Regions from separate parts of the Homo sapiens genome. Here region 2 is linked to region 1. The links come from fine-mapping of genetic effects on gene expression. A gene starts in region 1. The other region holds a variant in brackets. All regions are shown on one strand. Distances are between the middles of the regions.

Evidence for each region. PIP is the estimated chance that this variant, and not a neighbour inherited with it, causes the effect. A credible set is the group of variants that fine-mapping cannot tell apart.
Region 2: its variant is the best candidate, but not a certain one, in a credible set for the expression of ACSF2 in whole blood (TwinsUK, PIP 0.56).

The regions. Positions count from the first base shown.
Region 1 is chr17:50,422,513-50,430,512 of GRCh38, reverse strand. It overlaps ACSF2 (acyl-CoA synthetase family member 2), which reads right to left and starts at 4,295. Exons shown (of 16, transcript NM_025149.6): 1 at 4,124-4,295. The coding sequence starts at 4,251. RefSeq lists a silencer at 4,163-4,482 and an enhancer at 4,219-4,763.
Region 2 is chr17:50,450,859-50,459,447 of GRCh38, reverse strand. The region is part of intron 1 of ACSF2 (acyl-CoA synthetase family member 2); the gene reads right to left. Among named protein-coding and RNA genes, the nearest start is that of CHAD, 14 kb to the left of the region's middle. The variant G/A (reference allele first, on the strand shown) is at 5,213.

The DNA of each region.
Region 1 (8,000 bases):
TGTATTTTTAGTAGAGACAGGGTTTCACCATATTGGCCAGGCTGGTCTCGAACTCCTGACCTTGTGATCTGCCTGCCTCGGCCTCCCAAAGTGCCGGGATTACAGGTGTGAGCCACTGCACCCAGCCTTCTTTTCTTTTAAAAACCCACTTGTAACTGCTGCTCATCAGATCATATAATCAGGGCAACTTGAGTCTATGCTCCCGGTTGCAGTCTGCAAACATGGCCCAAATAAATCTCTCTACTTATATTACTTTGGCCTCAGATTTTTCCCTTAGGTCCACAGTCTTATATGATCATAGCCATCCCCATGGAGGGTGGTCCACAAAGCCCCCTTACCCCTCTGTCCCCACCATCAGCACCAAGTCACTGGATCCCCAGCTCTGAGCACCACACCTAATTCTGAGAGGCTTTAGCCACTGATCTCTCTGCCTTCCCAGCTCTGAGTGTTCTCAACACCCTGGATGCAGCTGCCTCATAGGCAGCCCCAGGCCAGCTTTAGGGCAGGTCTGGGGGAAGCCTGCTCAGCCCAGGTTTCTCCTTGAATTCCTTCCTTGGAGGTTCACTGAAGCCCCAGACTAAGCCATCCACCTTCTTTGGGGAAGGAGGCACATAGATAGGGGGAAGGAGTTGGTCGTGAGGAGTTCTGGAGAGCAAAGGACAGCTTTTTCTTTCCTTCTGGGGAGAAAGACTCTGGGCCGGGCGTGGTGGCTCACGCCTGTAATCCCAGCACTTTAGGAGGCTGAGGCAGGTGGATTACTTGAGTTCAGGAGTTTGAGACTAGTCTGACCAACATGGTGAAACCCCATCTCCACTAAAAATACAAAATTAGCTGGGCGGGTGGCGCACACCGGTAATCCCAGCTACTTGGGAGGCTGAGGCAGGAGAACTGCTTGAACCCAGGAGGCGGAGGTTACAGTGACCTGAGATCATGCCATTGCACTCCAGCCTGGGGCAACAAGAGCGAAATTCCACCTCAAATAAAAAAAAAAGAAAAAGAGAAAGACTCTGAACAGCCCTGCGTCAAACGGAGAGGAGGACGTCCAGCAGACCCAAGGACTGGACATGTAGCTGGGTGGAAGTCACCATCTTGGCAATCAGCTAGGAGAAATAATTGGGTTCCAGAAAGAGGCCACCAATCAGGGGATCCTCTCCTACTTTCAAATCAGTCAGAATTCCCACCCAGACACCAGTCAAGGGTTTCCAGGGATCAGCCCTGCCTCAAAGGAAAGGCTGAGAACAAGAGCAAGCTTGTTTTATTCATCAGCCCAACAACACAGCAAGAAGGTAGTAAGTAATGAACTAACTAGCTCAGAGGTTAGATAACATGCCCGAGGTCATACAACCAACAGGGAGAGGACCCAGGGCTGTCATCCAGGATAGTCTAACTTCAAAGCCCTTGCTCTTTTCTCTCAGGCAAAACCAGGGTCTGGTAAGTAATAGGCCTGGGTGTTGGGCAACAGGAAAGCAGGCTGTGTGTGAGCAGATCGGAGAAAACAGAGGACGAAAGTCCAAGCGCATTCCTCACCATGGCACTTGCAACACCGAATAGTGCTCACCTTGATTTATTTCTCCTCCTACGAGGCTGCAAGTTCCTGGCAGGGTGAGGACTGAGTTCTGTGGCCTCTATATGCACAGCATGTGCTAGCATGACGCAGAATCTGTTCTCAGGAATGTTTGCTGATGGTTTCAGCCCTGAGGCTTCTTTTTTCATTTTTATTTTTATTTTTTTGAGATGAAGTCTTTCTCTGTCACCCAGACTGGAGTGCAGTGGTGCAATCTCAGCTCAGTGCAACCTCCGCTTCCCAGGTTCAAGTAATTCTCCTGCCTCAGCCTCCCAAGTAGCTGGGATTACAGGCATGTGCCACCACGCCAGGCTAATTTTATATTTTTAGTAGAGATGGGGTTTCTCCATGTTGGCCAGTCTGATCTAACTCCTGACCTCAAGTGATCCGCCCACCTCAGCCTCCCAAAGTGCTGGGATTACAGGCATAAGCCACCATGCTTGGCCTTTATTTTTATTTATTTATTTTTGACATGGAGTCTCCCTCTGTCACCCAGGCTGGAGTGCAGAGGTGCAGTCTTGGCTCACTACAACCACCGCCTCCCAGGTTGGAGCAATTCTCCTGCCTCAGACACCCTAGTAGCTGGTATTACAGGCACATGCCACCACGCCCGGCTGATTTTTGTATTTTTAGTAGAAACGGGGTTTCACCATGTTGGCCAAACCGGTCTCCTGACTTCAAGTGATCTGCCTGCCTGGGCTTCCCAAAGTGCTGGGATTACAGGCATGAGCCACCCACCCAGCCTTTATTTTTATTTTTTGAGTCTAGGTTTTGCTCTGCTGCTCAGGCTAGAGTGCAGTGGCATGATGACGGCTCAATGCAGCCTTGAACTCCTGGGCTCAAGTGATCCTACCACCTCTGCTTTCCAAAGTGCTGAGATTACAGGCATAAACCACCTTGCCTGGCCTGAGCCCTGAGGCTTCTGAAGGGGAAAGTAGGAGAGAAATCAGGTAAAACCATCACAGTCAGACAATAAGGGTGCAGGCACAAGGGAGTGGAAGGGGCAGAAAGAAAGTAGGCCAAACACTCAGAAAATCATCTGTCTGGATAAATGAGTCTCCTCCTGACACAGCAATAAGAATTTCTCTGAAGCTTGGTGCTCTCAGAGGTCCCAGGGCTGTAGCAGGTAAGTGACCTGTTTTGTTTATAGATAAAAAAAAGTCAAAGGTCAGAAATGTTGCCATGTGGCCTGATTTATTACTTATTTATTGGTTTGTTTGTTTGTTTTCTATTGGGCAGCCTCCTGAGCCAGAGTAGGCTGAGAGACTTCCCCTGTGGCCTGATTTAGTGTGATAAAATATGTACACTTTGGGAAGTAACTTTCCTCAGAGTCCTCCCAGCCTGAGGGGGCAGCCATGAGTCCAGAGGAGAGGCTTAAGAGACTAGGGGGTCAGGGGAGGGCCGAACTTGTCTAGGGAGACCCTGGGAAGTAGTGAGTGACTTCCCAGGGTCACTGGGAAGAGGACCCCACTGTCCTCATCTCAATCCCATCTACTGACCAGCCTTGATCCACTTAGTTTTCTCAGCAAATTAGGCAGAGTGATGTTAAGGCATTGCATGCTTTCTAGCATTCAGAAATCAGCAAGTTCAGAAAGTGTGATCTTGGAGTTCTAGCCAAAAAGGAGTCTGCATGTCCCTCCAACTCTTCCTACTTAGCCTTTTTAAAAACAAAAACAAATCTAGTTCTCTGAGACACAGCTTTGTTCTGACTTCTCCCTTTTCCATGTCCAGGCCCACACCCCATCTGATGTTGCTGAAAGTGCTGTCCTGACCATAGACTTAGTATCTGGCCGAGTTGAGTGGTAGGACAGGCTCAGTAGTGCACAGGGCTCCCCAGTGGTGCTGCTGAAGCTAACAGCCCTGATAACATGAGTGGCAGCCTGCTCTCTGTGTCTCAAGCACTTTCACATTTGCCATCTCACGGGGTCCTCCCAAGGACTGGTCACACCGGGAAGGCAGCTTTACTTACTGTGCTGCTGCAGAGGCAGTGAAGCTACTGGGAACTGAAATCCTCTGCCTGCCAGCTTCCATCCCACCCCTTGCACTGAGGACAGAAGGAAATAGGCCCAGGAGTAGGCAGCAAAGAATTAAAGCCATGTTAGTGAGCAGCTGATGAGGAGACAGGAGACTGCTAAGTTTAGTGGCCTGGGTCGGGGAGACTGGGGCTGATCCCCAAGTTTGCCCATGAAGGGGTTCCAACTCAGAGGCAGTGTCCTGGGGGTACAGCCCAGGCCTTGGCCCTTGCCCCTCCCCATCGGAATATTCTCCTTAAAGCCCACACTCCTTGCCCTCTGTGCCCATAAAGGAGAAGGAATCGAGAGTCTTGGACCAGAACTCGAAGTCACTGCAGCCACCAACCAAAGCCCCCTCCCCACCCAAGTCCACCAGGCCAAGCCAGCTTTTCCTATTGCCTAGGTGCTGGCGGGGGGCGGGGGAGGGGCGGGTACCTTCCCCCCAGTGCACTCGTCCAGAGGTGGGGCTTCCGAAGCTCGCCGGGACCTCCAAGTTCCTCTCCCGGGGAACTGCCCCGCCCCCTCTCTTCCCGCGGGGGGCCAGTACCTGAGGAAGCGGACACCCTGCAACCTGGCTTCCTGCCAACTCCGAGAGAGGGCGGCCCGGGCCCCCAGCACCCCCGAGCTCCCGGCGCACAGCCTCCCCAGGCGCAGCATCCCGACGTAGACAGCCATGGCTCGCTTTGCCCTGCGTCCCGGCCCGAGTAAACTTTTAAAGTGAGCCGGGGCGGGGCGGGCGCGCAGCGGGCGGGGAGGCGGGGAGGGTGGCCTCTGCCTATGGGGTGCGGCGGATTCGGTCTCCGCCGGCGGGGCGGGGCGGGGCGCGGCGGCGGCGACTTCGCGCGGGGCCACCTTCCCCTCCGACCCCGCGGCCCTCCCCCTCCCACCCTCGAAGAATAGCCCTGGTTTCCTCTGGATCCGAAGGCCCCAGCTGCAGTCCGAAACAGATCTTCCTCGCGACCATCCTCAGGGGCCTGGATGTTAGAAGCGCAAAAATTTGTTGATTTCCTAGAGGGAGAGCCAGCAGCACATCCGTGAGGGGCCAGATGGCAAGGTCAAGATCCATCCATCCCCTGCCCCCTCGGGTCACGTGCTGGCCCCGCTACTTGCGAGCCGGGGGCCAAAGGAGCAGGCGCGAAGCGTCCTTGAGGCATGCCAGCTGGAGCAGAGGGCCCCGCGGGGTTGGGGAGGCAGCCAGAACAAAGGGTGTCGCGGGTGAGCCCCCTGCGGGCCCGCTGGCGCCAGAGTCCCAGCTGAGGCCAGATGTCAGCTTCAGAAGGAACACCAGTTGTACCCCATCTCACAGGAGGCATCCTCCCATCCCTCCTCGGCGCCTCTGCCTTGACCTTCTGCACAGGGTTGGGGGCCGGACACGTAAGGTGGCCTCAGGGACTGGGACCTGTGTATTTCATCCTCCATCTGCCTGTCTTGGGGCCTGTGGCACAGTTCCCTGTGCTGCCCCAGGTGTGAATGGAAAGCAACCCTATGCCCCTCCTTAGGGTTCCTGAGGCCCAGGGGTGAGTGGGGTACTAAGACCTGGGCAGAGCTGCGGGACAGAGAAGGTGATAGCTCTGGTCCTGGCTAGGAAAAGTGGCACTGGGCACCAAAGAGTAGCACAGTTTATACCTGTTCCAGGTCCACACTGCCTCGGCCTAGCCATGACTCTTCCTCTAGAGAAGGAGCTGGAGAAGAATGGGGCAAAGGCCCTGGCAGTGTGACCTCCCCTCTCCTGACTGGAGGAGATGAAGTAAACCCTGCCAGGCAGAAGGGGTGGCTGAGAGTGGAGCCTGGCCTGAGGTGACCTTTGCCCTTATCTGGGAACTCTGGCTCCACTTGGGTCATGAGAAGGAGTCCATGCTGGGCCTCTTTATGATCTTGAGCGTGACCTCAAATCCTCCCTGGAACCCCGGTTCCTAGGGAGGGTCCCCACACTTCAGTTTCTGTGGGGTTGGGGCAGGAAGAGACAGAGGAACAAAGAGATCACCGGAGGCTGGGCCTGCAAGGGTGTGCTTTCCTAATTAGACTAACTGTCTTTGATAGCGGACCAGGGAATGTGGAGGGCTGGGGCATTCACAAGTCTGGGTTCCCAGCCGTGGCTGGCAGGCTTAGCCTCTAGCATGCTGGGTGACCCTGGGTAAACCACTGTCCCTCTCTTGGCCTATGAAGTGTGGGGTGGGTACTGATCTTGTAGGTCCTTCCACTCTTCTGGCTAGTTTGAGGGTCAGTCCTAGAGTGGGAGAGAAGTGAGTTCCTCCTTGAACTTTGCTCCAGCCTCGGCTTTTCAAGACACTGGGCTTTCCTGACTCTTCCTAGGTGCACAGGCCGTGGCATCATAGCCATCAGTTTCAGGGTATCTTGTACATGCCAGGCTCTTCAAGGACATTTTCTCTGACCCTCACAAACACCCTGCAAGGAACAGGCATGGCTTGGAATGTGTCTTTGTTTTTATGGATGAAGAAACTGAATCCCAAAGAGGTTCAGCTTCTTAAACATAGGCCAAAGCTCTGCCAGTAGTCTCTTTGTGGCTTTGGGCAAGTCACGGGGCCTCTCCAGCCTCGTTATCTGTCAAATGGGGATAATAATACCAACTTCACGCAGAGGGCTGGGTAAGAATTGAGTAGGTGGCACAGAACTGGTAGTCGGCCAGTTTTCAGTGATTGTTTCTTTTTCCATCCTCTCCTTCCTCTTGTGTCTTCACTCTAAGACCTTCCTCTGTGTAGGAATTGCAAACCTTTTTTAGGAGGGAGAATTGTTTTATTTGTGCAAAGCCCTGGTAGGCACTGGTTCTGTGGATGGGGAGGAGGGCTGGGAGAAAGTCAAGACGGCTGGTGGAAGTCCGTGAGTCATGGTGGGGGAATCACGTTGACCCGCATTCTTTGGCTAGTATAAGGAAGTGGGGAGCAGGGCAGTGGGCCATCCAGGCTCTCCAGCTTCCCTTCCCTTCCCTTTAACCAATTAAATTCCCCGTTGCTCCCCAAGGGGCCTTCTGCCTGAGCCATCACATCTCCTTTATGCTGCATGTGACTTGCATGATTTATGGTCCCTGTAATTTGGCTCATGCCATTGGCTACCATGAGAAAGCCCTTATTCCCGCCCCTTTGCCCATGTCTTGCTTCTGTGCTTCAAAAGCAGGCTCAAAATGTAAACACCATTTATTGATTTTTTTTCTTTCATAACATCAACCTACAGAAGACCTAGTCACAGTTACAGAATAGAATGTAAATGTAAGTATCACTAACTTTGGAAGTTACATCTGATAGTAGTTGAGAGGGAAGGGGTGGGGGAGAGTATAAAATAAAAAAAAAGGGTATGTCATTATGTACAAAAATAATAATAAAACTATAGTACCAGCACTTAGGGAGGAGAGATGGGGTGCAAGTACCCATTTATCAAACAGAAAATCTAAAACTGGCAAAATAAGTATGTCATTTAGAGGCAAGTAGCAGAAGAAGATAAATCAGAAATCGTTACAATAGTTCAAATGATTCTCTTTGGACTTAAATAGATATTTCACCAAATAAATATATATATGTATGTATGTATGTATATATTGACCCCAAGAGTTTGAGGCTGCGGTGAGCTGAGATCACACCACTGCACTCCTGCCTGGGTGACAGAGCAAGACCCTGTCTCAAAAAAAAAAAAAGAACACCCGCAAAAAAACAGAAAATAACAAGTATTGGTGGGGTTGTGGAGAGACTGGACACGTGTGCATTGGGTGGTGGGAATGTAAAATGGGGCCACCACAGTGGATGGTATGGTGCTTCCTCAAAAAATTAAAAATGAGTTATATGATCCAGCAATTCTACTTCTGGGTATATACCCAAAATAATTGAAAGTCGGGACTCCAACAAACATTTGTGTACCAATGTTCACAACAGAATTGTTCCCAATAGCCAAAAGACAGACACAACCCAAATATTCATCAATGATTGAATGGATAAACAAATGCAGTAGATCCATACAATGGAATACTATTCAGCTTTCAAAAAAGGAAGGAAATTCCCACACATGCTACAGTCCACATGAACTTTGAACACATTGTGCTAAGTGAAATAAGCCAAACACAAAAGAATAAATACTGTATGATTCCATTCATATGCGACACCTAGAGTAGTCAAATTCTTAGAGACAAAGTGGAATGGTGGTTGCCAGGGGTTGGGGGTGTGGTGGGGGAATGGGGAGTTATTATTTGTTTAATGGGTATAGAGTTTCAGTTTAGGAAGGTGAAAGGTTTTTGGAGATGAATGGTGGTAATGGTTGTATACCAATGTGAATATACTTAATGCCACTGAACCATAACCTTAAAAATGGCTAAAATGATATATTTTATTTATGTCTATTTTTCCACAACTTTTAAAAAAGCTTTTCTTTGGGGCATAGCAGTGGGAGGAAGAGTGAGGGCAGAGAACAGGCTTTTGTTA
Region 2 (8,589 bases), 29 kb before region 1:
AATATAGGGAAACCCTGTCTCTATGAAACATTTTAAACAATTAACCAGGTATGGTGGCGCATGCCTGTAGTCCCAGCTACTCCGGAGGTTGAAGGGGGAGGATCACTCGAGCCTGGGAGGCAGAGGTTGCAGTGAGTCATGGTTGCACCACTGCACTTGAGCCTGGGTGACAGAGAGAGGCCCTGTCTCAAACAACAAACCAATAAAACCCAGTGGGACCTGGCAAGTTATCTGTTTACTCTTTGGCTCGAAGGGGATGAAGAGACTGCCTTGCCTATTCCATAGCAGGGCCATGACGTTCAAGCGTGAACAGGCCTGCAAAGGTGCTTTGCGAATGGTGAAGTGCTCTGTAGTCGACAGGCATTTTACCATCCATTCATGGCATTTATCGACCATGCTTTCGACACACATTCAGTGAGCACCCGTATGTGCCAAGTACTATGCTAGGACTAGAGATAGAACAAGCCACAGTCCTTCTTCTAAGAAGCTCCCTGTCTCTGGGGAAATTAGACATATTAGCTCTTCGTGGGTGGGAACAGCCTAGAAAATCAGGAAATGGGAGCCATGAGGCAGACTGTGGGGGGAATCCCAGCCCATCTGAGGCCCATTGTCTGTCCCCTCAAAGCTGGGTTAAGGCAGCCTCTCTTAGACCTGGGCCCTGGGGCCACCCATACTATGGCCTCCTCAGCCCTACGGAGTACTTAGCCAACATTTATTCCTCCAACAAATATTTAGGAAACACCCACCACAGAGAGGGCCCAATGGTAAAAAATGAACAAAGCCAAATACAGTCCCTGTCCTTGCAGAGATAAGGGTCTGGTGGGAAAGACAGGAGTGCAGTCAACCTTGGTAATGATGAATGTATGTTTAGAAAGCTGAGATAAGGAAGGGGCCGTGGTCCTAGGAGCACCTGTAAGACGGAATCTGGGATCACCTGGGGCTCCAAGGAAAACTCCCTTAAGAAATTTATGCCTAAGCTGACAGCTGAAGGGTGAGGAAGTATTAATCATCAGAGAAGGGAGAGGAGGGCTTTTCCAGCAGAGGAGAGCTTGTCTCTGTGGCTGGGGCATGGAAAATGAAAGGGAGTGCTGTGAGAACGGGAGGGTGACTGGAACTTGAACCCAGCTGAAACCAAAGGGTCCAGAGCAGAGGACATTGGGCCTGGAAGAATGAGGAGAGCCCCCAAACTCCAGGTTCTGGGGTTGGGGTTTTCTCCACCCATGGGCCCAAGTGGACCCACATCATTTATGAAGTGAAGAGGGATGGATGGATGTTGGAACCAGGATCTGTGTTTATGGGCTGATCCCTCCCTTGTCCCTCCAGGGACATCAGAAGGAACCTTCTCAACCAGTGTCACTCCCTCCTCCAAGTGACAGTTTTTCAAGATGTGGTCCATGGAGAGCTGCTTCGGAATCATCTCAGGATCTCACAAAGAATGCAAATTCCTGGGCCCCTGCAATGCCTACTCATTGCAGAGCTTCTGGGGAGTGGACCGGGAGAATCTGAATTTTTAACAGAATCCCATGTGATTCTGATGTGGGACTGGGTGAGGATTCTATGAATCACACTTTGACAACCACTCTCTTGGCCATCTAAGCCACCCCAACCGCCTTTGACTCATCTATTCAAGCAAGCTTTAGTGAGCACCTACTATGTGCCAGCCCTGTGCCAGGTACTAGGGATACAGGGATGGATAAGACACTGCTCCCAGCCCTCTAAGTAGCCATAGTGTGGTAGGAAGAGAAATGTATGTAAACAAATCATTTCAACTCTCGGATTAAGGCTATTCGGTAAAGAAGAGAACCAAAAGAAGATAACCTACTCTCTCCTAGGGGTACATGGGACAGAAGTGGGGTTTCTTTCCCCACACTCCTCACATCTCAACTACCAACCTCAGCTCCTCCTGCTTCTCCCCCTTGTAATTTCATTCAATTCCATATGTCTATGAAATCTGTGGGCCCTCAGGGTCTACTGAGATCTGCCAAGGTCTAGAGTGGAAAACTGGTCCTCTTCCCATCCCACTAGTGATGAAGGAAGATGCTGCATGTCCCTCCAAACCTCCACACCCTCCTGGCCAGAGATGGCCACCAATGGTGTGGTCCTCAGCCTAGGGGGCCCTGGGAGCTTCTACCTGGATTCCACCAGGGACTGCCTAGCCCATATCCAATGATGGCCTGGAAGGTCTGGAAGCCAGAGCACATCTTCTCCTATGGGAACAGAATTTGCTCTGTTCACATTCCCACCTAGGTCTGAGTAAGAGCTCAGAAACTGTCACCTAGAGCAGGCCAGTGAGGACACGCAGTCCTAGGAATAGGGTGTGACACCTGGACTTCCCAGAGGTCTTTTTTTCATTTTTTTTTTTATTGTTTGTCTGTTTGTCTTTGAGAAAGGATCTCACTCTGTCAACTGGGCTAGAGTGCAGTGGTGCCACCATGGCTCACTGAAGCCTCGACCTCCCAAACTCAAGCAATCCTCCCATCTCAGCCTCCCAAGTAGCTGGGACTACAGGTGTGTGCCACCACACCCAGCTAATTTTTATTTTTATTTTTTGGTAGAGATGGAGTCTTACTATGTTGCCAGAACTGGTCTCGAACTCCTGGGCTCAAGTGATTCTCCCACCTTGGCATCCCAAAGTCCTGGGATTACAGGTGTGAGCCACCGCACCTGGCCACCAGGCACCTTTTTTATTTTATTTTATTTTTATCATTATTTTTTTAAGACAGAGTTTCGCTCTCGTTGTCAGGCTGGAGTGCAATGGCGTGATCTCGGCTCACCACAACCTCCGCCTCCTGGGTTCAAACGATTCTCCTGCCTCAGCCTCCCGAGTACCTGGGATTACAGGCATGCGCCACCACGCCCGGCTAATTTTGCATGTTTAGTAGAGACAGAGTTTCTCCATGTTGGTCAGGCTGGTCTCAAACTCCCGACCTCAGGTGATCCGCCCGCCTCGGCCTCCCAAAGTGCTAGGATTACAGGTGTGAGCCACCGCGCCCGGCCACCAGGTACCTTTTTATCAGAGGGTGCAGTGTTAAGGATGAGGCTGTTCCCATCTCTTGCAGGTCACCTGTCTGCTTGGCCAAAGCAGTGGATTTACCTCAGCTTCTCTCTTCAGGGTTTCTGTGCCAAGGCTCCAGGTCACTGGCCCTGAGTAGAAACTGAGGAGTACACTGCAGACAAGAGCCTTCTCCTCCATGAAGGACAGGAAGTCAGCCTGGGGGTTTGGATCTCCCAAGGGTGAGGCAACCCCTAAGTTAAATGCACGATGATTACTGGGGTTGGGGCGTGTCAGGCATTTCTAAAGGGGAAAAGTTTGAAGCTGTTCAGGACTCCGGACGGGGCACTCCACAGCTCATTCTGCAGCTGTAGTGCTGGGAAGACCACGTATATCTTCTATTGATTGTTCATGCCTTGTGAGGGACAGTTTCTGGGAGGAACAAATTTCAAGGCAGAAGGAGCAAAACTGGGTTGCCCTGTAAATGGGTGAGGCAGCCACTACCATCCCACTGGAGGGTCTGTCACGACAGGGGCTGATGGAAAGGCTGTTTTCTTAGACTCCTCACCTGGGAAGTGAGGACAAGCGTCACAGTGAAGGAGGAACACTGCTGATGCTCTGAAGCTCGGGGGACACGGGGAGAATGCACCAGGCCAGGGACTCGAGGACCCGAGGTCTCAATGCAGGTGTGCTGCTGGCTGGGTGGGTGATGGGTGTCTTATGTCACAGCTCCTCCGCCCACCCTTGGTTTTAGCTACAGCTGCTGGGGTGGCTCCTTGGGAGTCTGCTGCCTGCTCAGGAACTTCCTCAATGTGGGAGTCCCTGGTTCTGCAGGCCAGCCCAGCCTGGAAGAGGAGCTCATGCCTCCAGGGACAGCAGTCAACCCCATGGGGCTGGAGCTCCAAGTCTCCCCTTTTCTGGGAGGTATCTGTACCTTCTCAGAGGTCCAGGTGAATGAAGCTCTTGTTGCCTAGGGTGATGATGTTAATAACATCCCCTCATCAGCTTCCCCACTCCCTGTTTACTCTCTCTACTTCCTATCCCCACTTCCTAGGATCACTCTCCAAAATAAACTACCTGCACCCAAGTCCTTGTTCTCAGGAGAATTCAAATTAAGACACAGGATTTCTCCTTTCTAAAGCTCACCTTCCCCACCTATAAAGTCTGGGAACTGGCCAGGAATGATGAATCACACCTGTAATCCCAGCACTTTGGGAGGCCGAGGTGGGTGGATCACCTGAGGTCAGGAGTTTGAGACCAGCCAGGCCAACATGGTGAAACCCCATCTCTACTAAAAATACAAAAATAAAACAGGCGTGGTGGTGCACGCCTGTAGTCCCAGCTACCCGGGAGGCTGAGGCAGGAAAATCTCTTGAATCCGGGAGGCGGAGGTTGCAGTGAGCCAAGATGGTGCCACTGCACACTCCAGCCGGACGGCAGGTGTTCAGCCTCACAACAAGCATCCTCCTATTCTCACAATGACCAGGAGTCCCATTTAGTTTGGAACTTGGTTTTCCATTATTCACCATGGTTTTCAGACCAAACAGTGGTCTCCTGGAAATTCTAATTGGGAAATCGGCAGGCTGATTTATGGGGGAAAAAAAAAAATCCAGTTCAATTGGCATATGTGTTTTCTCCTGTGTCTTCACAGCGGCTCTGACAGGTGGTGTGACAGAAACCCCAATAGGTCCTTCTTCTCTCATGACACACCCTCAGACATCTAGCTGGCCACGTTGTGTGGAATAAAGACCAGGTTTCCAAGCTTCCCCGGCAGCCGATCTGGCCAGATGGTGAGGTCCTGGCCAGTGGGGTTTAAAGAGAGATAGTGTGTGCAACTTCAGAGAAGAAACTTTCAGAGGAAGGGACATCTTCTCTTTTTTTTCTTCCTCAGGCTGGAATGCTGCTTGTGACGGGAAAAGAATGGTAGCATTTTGGACCACATAGTGATTTGGGGCACCACAGAGCAACAAGAGAGGAGCCTGACGCCTGGACAGCAGGAGCTACCACACCAGTCACAGACTGGCTGTCTCCCAGATAAAGAAACTCCCATCTCCTTTCTTTTTTCTTTTTTTTGCTTTTGAAAATTAAATTATTTATTTTGGGATATTTGTAGATTGATATGCAGATGTAAGAAATGATATTCAGGCCAGGTACGGTGGCTCATGCCTGTAATCCCAGCACTTTGGAAGGCCAAGGCAGGGGAATTGCTCAAGCCCAGGA[G/A]TTTGAGACCAGCCTGGGTGACAGAGCAAGACCCTGTCTCTAAAAAAAAAAAAAAAAAAAAAAAAATTTGGGACGGTCTTACTCTGTCGCTCAGGCTTGAGTGCAGTGGTGTAGTCATGGCTCACTGACTGCAGCCTGGACCTCCCGGGCTCATGTGATTCTCCCACCTCAGCCTCCTGTGTAGCTGGGACTACAAGTGTATGACCCCATGGTTGGCTATTTTTTTGTATGTTTTGTAGAGATGGGGTTTTGCCATGTTGCCCAGGCTGGCAATTTTTTTTTTTTTAAATTAGCTAGGCATAGTAGCATGCACCTGTACTCCTAGCTACTTGGGACGCTGAGGCAGGAAGATCTCTTGAGCCTAGTAGTTCAAGGTTGATTACACCCACTGCACTCCAGCCTGGGCAACAGAGCAAGAGCCTGTCTCAGAAACAACAACAACAACAACAACAACAGCACACACACACACACACAAACCCAAAACAACAACCACAAAAAACTACAAAAAAGAAACAATACAGAAATAGCTCATGCATTCTTCAGCATCAATATTCAAATTTTCCCAATGTTAACATCTTGCAAAACTATAGTACAATATTATAGCCAGGATATTGATATTGATAATAGTCAAGACACACAACCATTCCCTTGCCCCCATCTTCTTTCAGTCACTCTCAGTTTGGGTTTCTTTGAGACACACTAATATAATCCTAGAAAAATGCAGGTGAGGCCGAGCGCGGTGGCTCACGCCTGTAACCCCAACATTTTGGGAGGCTGAGGTGGGTGGATCATCTGAGGTCAGGAGTTTGAGACCAGCCTGGCCAACATGGTGCAACCCCGTCTCTACTAAAAATACAAAAAATTAGCTGGGTGTGGTGGTGTGTGCCTGTAATCCCAGCTACTCAGGAAGCCAAGGCAGGAGAAGCTTGAATCCAAGAGGTAGAGGTTGCAGTGAGCCGAGATTGTGTCACTGCACTCCAGCCTGGCCCACAGAGTGAAACTCCGTCCCAAATTTTAAAAAAATGTTTAAAAAAATGCAGGTGAGTATCATGAACTCCCATTCCACAGGTAAAGAAGCTGAAGTACAAAGAGATCAAGTGGATCACGTGGCGGATGAACACCCGAGCCAGGAGCAGAGGACCCGGTGCAACTGCCTCAACGTTACAGCCATGCCTGCCCATGCCCCACCCTCAGATCTGGGAGAAAGGAGAGGGCATAGGTGATTCCTGTTCCTTCTGGTTTGGAATTTATCTCCTATCTGATCATCAGAGATAATATAACCTCAATTTTATTATTCCACAATTTCTACTAACTGATCCCAAGAAACTGGGACCAGGGTAGGGCAGGGTTGAGTTGGAAACAGGTGGCTCTTCCAAGGAATTAAAAGAGTTCTACAAACTCATATCAATGCAATGTGCTCATAAACATAGGACCCACCCATCATTTCGAAAGAGGAAGCATAAACAAACCAATTCTCCTTCCTTGCCCACACCACAAATGCCTGGGGCATAAAGGGTGGCCACTTCTTTTTCTTTCTTTCTTTCTTTTTTTTAACTTTATTTTAAGTTCTGGGATACACGTGTAGAACGTGCAGGTTTGTTACACAGGTAAACGTTTGCCATGGTGGTTTGCTGCACCTATCAACCTGTCACCTAGGTATTAAGCCCTGCATGCATTAGCTATTTACCCTGATGCTCTCCCTCCCCCGGCCCCACCCCTCGACCCGACACTTCTTTTTCTATTTTTTCGTTTTGTTTTGAGACTCACTATGTCACCCAGGCTGTAGTGCAGTGGCACAATTACTGCTCACTGAAGCCTCAAGCTCTCAGGCTTAAGAGATCTTCCCATCTTAGCCTCCCAAGTAGCTGGGACTACAGGTATGAGCCACGGTGCCCCAACTTCTATTCTTAAAGGGATTTGGTTTTAGGAATTTTTTTTTTCAATGCGACATGGGAAGCTTAAGGAGTTAGAGGAAAAACAGCAGTGCCAGTTGTTCTCAACTCAGAACTAAAGTAACTACTTGGAAAGGCATCAGCTACTTAGCATGGGTGTTGTAAAACCCAAGGCTCTCAGGGCCCAGGTGGGACTGAGACCAGATAGGAGCCTTGAAGAAACAAAGCACAGCCCCACCTTAAAGGTGCCAGCAGAGGGCTGGCTCCTGAGAACTCAGGCCCAGATCTGAGTAGAGAAGTCAGGAGCAAGAAATTTTATTTTTTAAGAATTCTCTTGACTTTCCAGTGTTGGCAACTAATGTGTTCACTGCTTTATCCCAAGTGTCTGAGTGCCAGGAACATAAGAGGTGCTCAGATGAATGACCAAATGAATGAATTAAAAATAATGCACATAATGACTCAATTAAAAAATAGTAGACATCTTGCTGAAGGTAATCTATGAATGGCTAACAAGCAGATGAAACGCAAATTAAAACCACAATGAGGTACCACATCATGCTCACTTGGAAGGCAAAAAAATAAAATAAAATCAAGGGCTGGGCGCGGTGGCTCACGCCTATAATCCCAGCACTTTGGGAGGCCAAGGCGAACAGATCACCAGAGGTCAGGAGTTCGAGGTCAGCCTGGCCAATATGATGAAACCTTGTCTCTACTAAAAATACAAAAATTAGCCGGGTGTGGTTATGGGTGCCTGTAATCCCAGCTACTTGGGAGGCTGAGGCAGGAGAATCGCTTGAACCTGAAAGGTGGAGTTTGCAATGAGCCAACATTGTGCCATTGCACTCCAGCCTGGGTGACAAGAGCAAAACTCTGTCTCAAAAAAATAAAAAATAAAAAAACAAAATAACAAGTGTTGGCAAGCATGTGAGGACACTGTAATCCTTATATATTGCTAGTGGGAATGTAAAATGATTCAGCTGCTTGGAAAACAGTGTGGTGGCTCTTCAAAAAGTTAAATATAGAATTAGCATATAACCCAGCAATTCCACTCCTAGTTATAATATATGCCCAAAAGAACTGAAAACATGTGTTCAAACAAAAACTTGGGCCAGGCACAGTGGCTCATGCCTGTAAGCCCAGTACTCTCTGAGCCAAGGTGGGAGGATCGCTTGAGCCCAGGAGTTTGAGACTAGTCTGGGCAACATAGTGAGATTCCATCTCTACAAAAAAAATTTAAAAGTTAGCTGGGCATGGTGGTGCACACCTGTAGTCCCAGCTACTCCGGAGGCCTAGCTACTCTGAAGGATCACTTGAGCCTGAGAGGTCGAGGCTACAGCGAGCTACCATTACACCACTACACAACAGGCCTGGGTGACAGAGTGAAACTCTGTCTCAAACAAAACAAACAAAAACCCGTACATGAATGTTTACAGCAGCACTATTCACAATACCCAAAAGGCGGAAACAAACCAAATGTCCAGCAAC